2 separate regions of the Homo sapiens genome follow, and region 1 is linked to region 2. Evidence: fine-mapped expression QTL. Tissue or cell type: hypothalamus. Region 2 holds a variant in brackets; the other region holds the start of a gene. All regions are shown on one strand. Distances are between the middles of the regions.

Evidence for each region. PIP is the estimated chance that this variant, and not a neighbour inherited with it, causes the effect.
Region 1: MGAT3 starts here. The variant in region 2 is fine-mapped to the expression of MGAT3 in hypothalamus (GTEx, PIP 0.97).

What each region holds. Positions count from the first base shown.
Region 1 is chr22:39,454,653-39,458,652 of GRCh38, reverse strand. MGAT3 (beta-1,4-mannosyl-glycoprotein 4-beta-N-acetylglucosaminyltransferase) reads right to left here and starts at 1,641. Exons shown (of 2, transcript NM_002409.5): 1 at 1,096-1,641. RefSeq lists an enhancer at 1-195 and silencers at 516-645, 656-925, 1,656-1,715.
Region 2 is chr22:39,316,571-39,322,397 of GRCh38, reverse strand. RPL3 (ribosomal protein L3) reads left to right here and starts at 2,775. Exons shown (of 10, transcript NM_000967.4): 1 at 2,775-2,803; 2 at 3,806-3,998; 3 at 4,769-4,937; 4 at 5,557-5,692. The coding sequence starts at 2,801. It overlaps SNORD43 (small nucleolar RNA, C/D box 43), which reads left to right and starts at 3,285; the gene lies at 3,285-3,346. SNORD139 (small nucleolar RNA, C/D box 139) reads left to right here and starts at 5,502; the gene lies at 5,502-5,556. RefSeq lists enhancers at 1,118-2,006, 2,171-2,590, 2,007-2,896, 2,981-3,030, 2,897-3,786 and 3 more. The variant G/A (reference allele first, on the strand shown) is at 2,795.

The DNA of each region.
Region 1 (4,000 bases), 140 kb before region 2:
TGGGACCCCTCTTTCAAACCTTCCTAGGACCCAGAGCGGCTCCCCTTAGCACTCCTTAGACTGAAAACCCCCTCAGAGCTGCAGCTCCTGGGGGTGGGGGCTCTCCCCTCCATCCTTCTGCTGGGCTCCATGTCTGGATCTTTCATAACTGCTCCCCCTCCCCAAACGACACGCCAGTGCTCACAACTCCCCCATCAAGGCGAATCTGGACTGGTGTGTCCCAGGAATGAAGTGGGGAACCAGGGAGGAATCCCACTGGGGTAGTGTGTCTGCCCACACCCCATCAGGGGCCTTCAGGGGCATCTTCCGGGGCTGGGGGTCATCCGACCTCAGACCACTAGGTCTGGCCGCGCGGCATCCCTTCCTGCTGCACCCCAGCTCAGGAACCCCACCATACACACACCCAGGCGCACTCCCCTCCCCACTCCCGGTTCCAGAACTCACTATTTGCAGATATTTATAGCGCCCTCCCTCAGCCAGGTTCCCTCCCCCGCCCTGGGCAGAGCAATGCAAGGAGCCGGGGGCCCCCACCCCGGTAAATGGCCGGGGGCCCTCTCCACATTTGCCTCTGCCTGGTCCCCAGGGGTAGCTACGGCCGCAGCCCCCGCACCCGCCCAGCCCCCGACTGCGCTTGGGCCTCGGCTGCCGCCGCCGCAGTCTGGGGTCGGGGGTGGGGAAGGCGGGCGCGGAGGCCTCCCACCCCAGCCCCGCGCCGCGCCGGAGGTTGTGGGGGAGCCGCGCCGGAGGCTGGGGGGTGCCGCGCACAAAGCACGGCTCGAGCCCCGCGCCTCGGGGACGTCCCCCGCCCGGCCGTGGGAGGGGGTCGGGCGCTGAGGCTCTGCCCTCCGGGGACCGGGGAGCTCGGAGGAGCGGCGGGTAGGGGGAGGGGGCCCGCGCCGAGCGGCTTCCCCGGCATCCCGCCCCCACCGCGGCCTCCGGGCCCCCAGCCCCAGTGCGCCCGCGCCCGCCCCCTAAGGTCACGCTCGGGGAGTGGGCCGCGGAGCCGGGCGGGGGGCGCCAAGCGCAGCGCGGGAGGGCGGGCAGCGCGGGGATAGAGGGGCCGCGGCGCCCCCCAGGACGCCGGGGTCAACTCACCCATCGCCCGCTGGGTCTCAGCAACGGCGGCAGCAGCGGCGGCGGCGGCTCCGCGGCCCCCGGGGTCCCCGGCGGGGAGATGCTGGCGTCCGCCGCAGCCTCTCGCCCCATCCCGGGCTCCGGCGGCAGCGGCTGCGGCGGGCGCCCGGCATCGCAGGCAGCGCGGCCCCGGCCCGGCCCCGATCCCCTCCCCCCACCCCCACTTCCACCCCGTCCCGGGGACCCGGCGCGGCCGCTCGGCTGCACCCCGGGGCGGCGGCGGGGGCCCGGCGAGCGGACGGGCGCGGGGGAGGGACCGCGGCGGGCGCGCGGGGGGCGCGGAGGCGAGGCCGAGCGCGGCGCGCAGGGGTGCCCGCTCCCGCCGGCTCAAGCGGCTCCGGCCCCCACCCCGCCCCCTCCGCAACCCCCTCCCCTCCCCCGCCAGCCGGGCTCCGCCGCCGCGCCGGGCCGGGGGCGCCTCGCACCGCAGACTCCGGCCGCCGCCGCCCCGCGCCGCCCGCGCGTGCTGGATCGAGTGTGTGCGTGTGCGAGCGAGTGTGTGTGAGTGCGAGTGTGCGCGCGCCCCTCCTGTGACCGTGCGTGCGCCGGCCCACGGCCCGGGGCGGCCTGCGCGGGGGCGTGTGCGGGGAATGCGGGTAGTTCGGAGTGCGGGCCTGGTGTGCGTGCGGGGCAGCAAGTCCCGTTCTGTGTATGCGTGGACGGGTGCGTTCCGCAGCGTGCCCGGGTCGGTGTGACTCCGTGTGCCCGAGTCTGTGCCTGTGTGTGCATGGACGTGCAGATCCGTGTTGCGGTGTGTGCGTGGATGCGCCTGTGCCCGCGTGAACCTGGGCCGGGATTTCGCATAGGCATCTGTGACCATGTGCAGAGGCCTGGGCCTGTGATGTGTGCACGGTGCCGGGCCTGTTACGGTGTCTGCAGAGTCTGTGTGTCTGCTTGGGGCGTGGGTGACCGCTGTACACCGGCCTGTGTCCTTCCGTCCGACCCCCTCCGTCCCTCACATGCCCGAAGCCACCTGCGCACTCCTGGGGTAACTGGGGGGGCCTCCCCTCCCCCGCCCCCCTCACCCGGCCACCCTAGGCCCGGTCGGCCCTGCCAACCCTCTTGAGCCTACTCTCCTGCCACTTGCCCACCAGCGGTTCTCCGAGGGCCCACCGTGTCGTGCCCTGGCTCCTCGTGGCCTTGCTCTAGGCCATTCCTCTCAGGGCTCAGAGGCGTCCCCCACGTGTTTCCCGCCTTTCAAGTGGTTCCGTTCTGGGGCCTACAGAGCAGCCACTTCCTCCCGCGGTGCGAGGCACAAGGCATTGTGGGTACGCAGCAGACATCTCTGCGCCGCCATCGTCGAAGGTGCAGGGATGCGCTACCTATTCTATATCCCAGCGAATGTGCTCCAGAATAGTCCCAGAGGCCTTTGCTGAACCATCCGGGCTGCCTAGGGCTGGTCTACCTGCTCCAGGTGCCTCCGTGCCCAGCTTCATCCATCCTTGCTGAGGAGGCAGAGTGATCCTACTCCAACATTCACTTGAGCAGGTCACTCTCCTGCCTGCACCTTCAATGGCTCCCACTTGCCCTCAGCTTAAGTTCAGTGCCTGGGCGGGGCACAGGGAGCCCCTGGTGACCTAGTCTTGCCCCCTTCTTCAACGTCACCCTCACTGCTCTTTTCTTCCTGGAGGCTCTCTCTAAGCAAGGGTGGGCAAACCATTTGCTTTAAGAGATTGATTGTAAATCTTTTAGGCTTTGCCAGCCATATGGTCTCTGTCCCAACTACTCAACTCTGCCATCGTAGCATAAAATCAACCATAGACAATACGTAAAAGAATGAGCCTGGCGGTGTTCCAATAAAACTTTATGGACACAAAAATTTGAATTTCGTGTCATTTTCACGTGTCCAGAAACATTTTTTGATGTTTTCCCAACCATTTGAAAGTGTAAGATCCATTCCTAGTTCCTATCACTCTAAGCACATTCCATTATAACATCTCCATGGGCCGGGCATGGTGGCTCATGCCTGTAATCCCAGCACTTTGGGAGGTTGAGGCAGGTGGATCAGAAGGTCAGGAGTTCAAGACCAGCCTGACAACATGATGAAACCCCATCTCTACTAAAAATACAAAAATTAGCCGGGTGTGGTGGCACACGCCTGTAATCCCAGCTACTCGGGAGGCTGAGGCAGGAGAATTGCTTGAACCCAGGAGGCGGAGGTTGCAGTGAGCCGAGATCATGCCACTACACTCCAGCCTGGGCAACAGAGCAAGACTCCATCTCAAAAAAAAAATAAATCATCTCCATGACATGTGCTTAAGGTAATTGTCACTCCCCCAAAATCCAGTCTATTCTGCCCTGCAAAAATGTTGCCCTCCTCCTCTCCCCAGCCTGGCTGTTCAACCCTCTCTGCCCCTTCTTCTCCGGCCCCCAAAGAACCTTCAATTTCTGCTCAAATGTGTCCCCCTCCCCCAATTCCCCATGCCACAGCTCTCCCTGCCTGGGACTCATTCCCCTCTGGAAGGGACCGCCTCACAGACACTTTCCTTCCCCAGAACCTTCTCTCCCTCCCTGAGCCTTCAGCAGCAACTCTGGGCGTCCCTCAGCCCATGAAAGAAGTGCTGTTTCAAGTCTGGATTCTCCATTGAACTCGTTCTGAGCATCAAGAAAACCTTGACATTGGCCCCCAAGCACGAAGGCAGGCACAAAATAATCACATTCCTCCATTTCCATTGCTCCTGGCAAAGGGGAGGAGGACCTGCCCAAGCCCCAGCCCCTGCCCTTGAGGCCCAGTGAGAAGTAAAGACACGCCCCACTCCCCAGGGAAGCTGCCCTGCCCAGAGCTGGCCAGGGTCAGGGGACTTGCTTGCTCTCCATCTTCCCCCAGCTTGGGTCTTTGTTCTCCTGACCTTTCCAGATTCCCAAG
Region 2 (5,827 bases):
GTAATCCCAGCACTTTGGGAGGCTGAGACGGGTGGATCACGAGGTCAGGAGATCAAGACCATCCTGAATAACACAGTGAAACCCTGTCTCTACTAAAAATACCAAAAATTAGCCGGGCCTGGTGGCGGGTGCCTGTAGTCCCAGATAGTTGGGAGGCTGAGGCAGGAGAATGGCATGAACCCGGGAGGCAGAGCTTGCAGTGAGCCGAGATAGTGCCACTGTGCGCCACTGCACTCCAGCCTGGGCGATAGAGCCAGACTCCGTATCGGAAAAAAAAAAGGGCGGGGGGCAATATGGGTAGGTTATAATCCTTTGTCTGCATCCTGAAATTTTTTTTTTTTTTTTTTTTTGAGATGGAGTTTTGCTTTTCTCACCCAGGCTGGAGTGCAATGGTGCAATCTTGGCTTACTGCAACCTCCATCTCCCAGGTTCAAGCAATTCTCTTGCCTCAGCCTCCCAAGTAGCTGCGATTACAGGCGCCCACCACCACCCCTGGCTAATTTTTGTATTTTTAGTAGAGACGGGGTTTCACCATGTTGGCCAGGCTGGTCTCGAACTCCTGATCTCAGGTGAACCACCCACCTTGGCCTCCCAAAGTGCTGGGATTACAGGCATGAGCCACCACGCCTGGTCTTGTTTTTTTTTTTTTTTTTTTTTTGAGACAGAATCCTGATTGGTCACCCAGGCTGGAGCACAATGGCACGATCTCGGCTCACTGCAACCTCTGCCTCCCGGATTCAAGCAATTCTCCTCCCTCGGCCTCCGGGGTAGCTGGGACTACAGGCGTGCACAACAACTGCTAATTTTTGTATTTTTAGGAGAAACGGGGTTTCACTGTGTTGGCCAGGCTGGTCTCAAGTTCCTGACCTCCAGTGATCCACCCTCCTCAGCCTCCCATAAGTGATGGGATTACAGGTGTGAGCCACCGTGCCTGGCCTGTATCCTGAAATTTTAAAAACCTTCTTAAATTATTTGGCAGCAAAAAGTAAACTGATGCATTTTTTGAGCAGCAAAGTCAGCCTTGAACTGATGTGAGTCTATTTATATTTGTCCCACTCCATGTGAATATTCATGTTTCCTTACGGAATATTGTTTTTCTTTAAAAAGTGCTGTATTACATAATATACAGTATGTGCACCATATTACCTTTCTAAAAATCAAAAAATGCTCAATTTTGAAACATATGTGGCCCCCAGGATTTCTAATAATGGATTGAAGATCTATCACTTATGTCCTTCGGGAATGGTGTGAGGATTGAGATAATTTTTTTTTTTTTGAGCTGGATTGCACTGGCGCAATCTCAGCTCACTGCAAACTCCGTCTCCCGGGTTCAAACGATTCTCCCGCCTCAGCCTCCCAAGTAGCTGGGATTACAGACGCACACCATCGTGCCCCGCTAATTTTTGTATTTTTAATAGAGACGGGGTTTCGCCATGTTGCCCAGGCTGGTTTCGAACTCCTGACCTCAGGTGATCCGCCCGCCTCGGTCTCCCAAAGTGTTGGGATTACAGGCGTGAGCCACCGCGCCTGGCCGAGAGAATGCTTTTCAAACGACGGTGGGAGCAAAGGCCAGGCCCAGAATTAAAGAAGATGACAGGGTGGGACAGAGGAAGCAGGTGATATGAGAGCGTGTGCTCTGGCGCAGCCATGAGGCTGAAGTAGACGGTTAGGGGAGCGTCTTTGGTGGCCGCTGAAGTTGATGCTTAATTCCGAGGAAACAACGAGGCGGCCATGGAAAGTAACGAGATACTTGATTCTTAGAAAGATTTGTAGGGGGCCAGGCGCGGTGGCTCACACCTGTAATCCCAGCACTTTGGGAGGCCGAGGCGGGCGGATCACGAGATCAGGAGTTCAAGACCAGCCTGGCCAACATGGTGAAACACCGTCTCCACTAAAAATACAAAAAAAAAAAAAAAAAAAATTAGCCAGGCATGGTGGCGCATTCCTGTAATCCCAGCTACTCGGGAGGCTGAGGCAGGAGAACTGCTTGAACTGGGAACCGGTAGGCGGAGCTTGCAGTGAGCTGAGATCGCGCCACTGCGACAGAGCGAGACTCCGTCTCAAAAAAGAGATTTGTAAGGGACCAGCCTGGAAGCAGGGAATCGGTCAGGATCCGAGTCACCCTGGAGCCTAGGCAGAGATCAGCGAAAGCCCTCGCTGATGCATAGGTCTGGAAGGCGTGGGGCTCCGGGAGGCTGAGCAGCTGGACTCGGCATGACCAGAGGTCGTGAGGCCGTTCCGCAGGCTTGGGACGCTCCTGACCCTCAGAATCAAGCGCGGGCCACTGCATTAGCATGGGAGAAATGGCAGAGATAGGGCTTGAGGGAGGGATGCCCGAGATTAAAGGTATTAAAGGTAAATTGGTGTCGCCGCAAAACCAGCGTGGGAGCCAGGAAACGAGAGTTTCAGTCTTTCTTCGCTAATTCCAGAGATAGCTGCATATCACAGGAGGAGAAGCGACGCAGCCATTTTTCTTCGTTATTATCAAATTTGGCTGCTGCCGGACGCCGTAGATTTGTGGCTCACCCACCCTTAGCCCACCTCTCCGCGGCTTTTCACTAAGTTTGAACCCGACCCCTCGCCGTAGAGTGTGTAATTTCTGTCTCCGAAGCTGACGTCAACTTCTGAACGAAAGCTAGGAGCGGAAGAGCGTGCGTGGAAATGGCGCTCGGTACGTGCCCCCGACCTGTCGTCTGCCGCGGGGGCGCGCTCGCACGCCGGAAGGGGCGGGGCCAGATTTGGCTTTATATAGCGGACCCGTAAGGCCGACCGGCCTCTACCGGCGGGATTTGAT[G/A]GCGTGATGGTATGTGTTGTAATGGCGGCCGTTTCATTGTCACCGGCGTCGGCACGGCTGAATCCGCGACGCATCGCCGCCATCCCGTCTTGGCCGGCGCCGGGGGTTTGCTTTAGGGGCACGGGCGACCCAGCGGGGACTTCAGTCTGGCCTATTTTCTGGAAAGTCGAGAGGCTTGTGAAGAGCGCTTGGAGGACTGGCTTTGGGCCTGCAGGTCGGCCAGAGAGAGGCCGTAAGGGTGGGAGCAGGCTTGGAGGCCCGGCGTTTTTAAAGCCATGAGTCATTTCTAAGTTTCGACCTCACCAATTCTATCATTAGTTGGGATTAGGGCCCATAACCTGCTTGTCTGGGTAGAAGGACCTTGGGTGGAGGTTCTCGGCGCCGTTCTCATTGGGAGGTAAAGAAGCTTGGGGGAGGGGAGTGTTGTGGAGTCCTCCTGAATATCTGGGGCCGCTGGTGCACTCCGAAGGCCTCTGGAGCTCGCAGAAACCACAGATGATGAACTTATTGACGGGCGGACAGAAACTGTGTGCTGATTGTCACGTTCTGATTTGGCTCTGCGGAGTTCTTTGGCCTGTGTGTATCAGTGTAATTAGTGTCCGGGCACCGGAGGCAGCCTATAGCTTAACATTGCTAGCTGCTACCCAGCGTTTGTCCCGGGAGTCCCTTTCTTTAGCGGTCAAAACCTTGCTAATTGGCATATAAAGCTGCCTGTTAAGCAGTTTTTAGTGCCACTACTTAGTGTATTTTTGTGTGGTTAGATAAAAAAAATGGGTCGTTTTCTTACAGGTTGAGAGGATTTGAAATAAGATTCAGCTTAAATTTTGTCGAATACAAAAGCATTCTTGACACGTGCGAGCCTGGAAGAGATAATGACCTTTTTATTCGGCTTGCTGGGTGTCTGGTCAGGATTCTTCAGTATTGCTGAGATTTGGAACTTAAGCAGCTGGGAACTAGAGAAGGGGGCACTGCTTTGGTTTGGGTGCTGACGGTGATTTTTTTCCCACCTAGTCTCACAGAAAGTTCTCCGCTCCCAGACATGGGTCCCTCGGCTTCCTGCCTCGGAAGCGCAGCAGCAGGCATCGTGGGAAGGTGAAGAGCTTCCCTAAGGATGACCCGTCCAAGCCGGTCCACCTCACAGCCTTCCTGGGATACAAGGCTGGCATGACTCACATCGTGCGGGAAGTCGACAGGCCGGGATCCAGTATGTACAGACATCCTAAAAGTTGGGGGAATAGGAGTGGAGGGGGAGGGAAATTGTAGAGATGGAGTCAAGCTGTTAGCAGAGGGCAGACTTTTTTTTTTAAGCAGGAGTTACACGTTGTCAGAACTGCTGCGACAGCAGAATGGGAATGCTTAACTTGAAAACTAATATTCCAAGGCTACAGATGGTCAGCACTGTTTGCTTTAGGTGCGGTGTGGGGTATTGATTTCAGAGCATAGTAAATTTGCCAGGAACCTTAGCAAAGAGAAGTTAACACTAGTGTGGGGGGTTGGAGCTGCTGAGGCTGGCATAAGAACTGCCTCATTCATGTTTTTTTCACCTGAAAGCTTGAATAATGGCCACTTACCTGTGTGTGTTCTACTTAGAGATGTCTAACAGCACTGGTTGCTGAGCCATGGAGACATTAATGTTAGGCAGTTGATACTGACTAATCTCTGAGCTCAGAGCTATTGTTAGGGCACTGAATTTTCCAGATAAATAGCAATCTTGTCTGCCTCCAGAGGTTTCTGTAGAAGAGAATTGAAGCTGGACAGGTATTTGGCTGTCTAGGGTCCTGATATTTTTTGTTTGAATAACATAAATGTGCTTTGAATGAGAGATAGGCAGTAAGGACAGCCCTGTGAGTCCGTACTGCAGGTGTGGGGCCCAGTTGCCCTTCCGGCCTAAATGGGCACTTTGCATTTTCCTAGAAAACATTACACCCCTTGCTTGGGCTCCTGCCAAGTCTGACTACTGCTTTTTTTTTGCAGAGGTGAACAAGAAGGAGGTGGTGGAGGCTGTGACCATTGTAGAGACACCACCCATGGTGGTTGTGGGCATTGTGGGCTACGTGGAAACCCCTCGAGGCCTCCGGACCTTCAAGACTGTCTTTGCTGAGCACATCAGTGATGAATGCAAGAGGCGTTTCTATAAGAATTGGTAAGGGAGGAGGCCATGCAGTCCCTAGCTTGGGAGCTTGGGAGCTGGAGAGCAGGGAGCAGCGTGTGCATGGTTTCTCAGCTCTGTAGCAGGCAGGGAGCTGCTGTCTTGGGTTTAGTTTGCCTCTCGAACAGAAAAATACCTGGGATCAGACTTGGCCAGCCATCTGGTTTCAGCCGGAAGCTAACACCCTCATTCTGAGTCCAGGCTAGTGGGTGGTGGCTGAGGACCCAGTTGGTTGAGGAGTCCAACTAGAAACCAGGAGAGGTAGCAGAATAATTAAACCCCTATAGGGGTGGCAAGGGCCTCTGGCCCTGGGTGGAATGTCCCATTTCCTTCATCACTGAGTGGGCTTCCCCAGGGCAGAAAGGTTTGTCCCGGAGCAAGAATTTTGTTTGAATGCGTGTAACTTAAATTAACCTTGTGGACCTCTGCTCAGCTCCGCTCGGCTCTGCCCGATGAGCTCCATCCAGGCTCCGCTTGCTGGTGGAAAAGGCTCCTTAGAAGCCGGCAATGAGCTCCATCCCCACGCGGTGCCAGTGTGCCTTCCGCTCACCCCTCGGAGGGGTGATGAAGGCCTGCACCTGGTCCCCTCCCCAACTCTGCTCTGCTCCTGAAGGCATAAATCTAAGAAGAAGGCCTTTACCAAGTACTGCAAGAAATGGCAGGATGAGGATGGCAAGAAGCAGCTGGAGAAGGACTTCAGCAGCATGAAGAAGTACTGCCAAGTCATCCGTGTCATTGCCCACACCCAGGTGAGCCCAGTGCCCCGGGGTGGCTTGGCCTGCCACTTAGTAGAAGTGACCTATGTGATCATGGGGGTCCCGTGCCCGCACGCTTATGGGTAGGCTTCTCCCTTGCCAGCAGAGGGCACTGTGTCCTTACTGGCC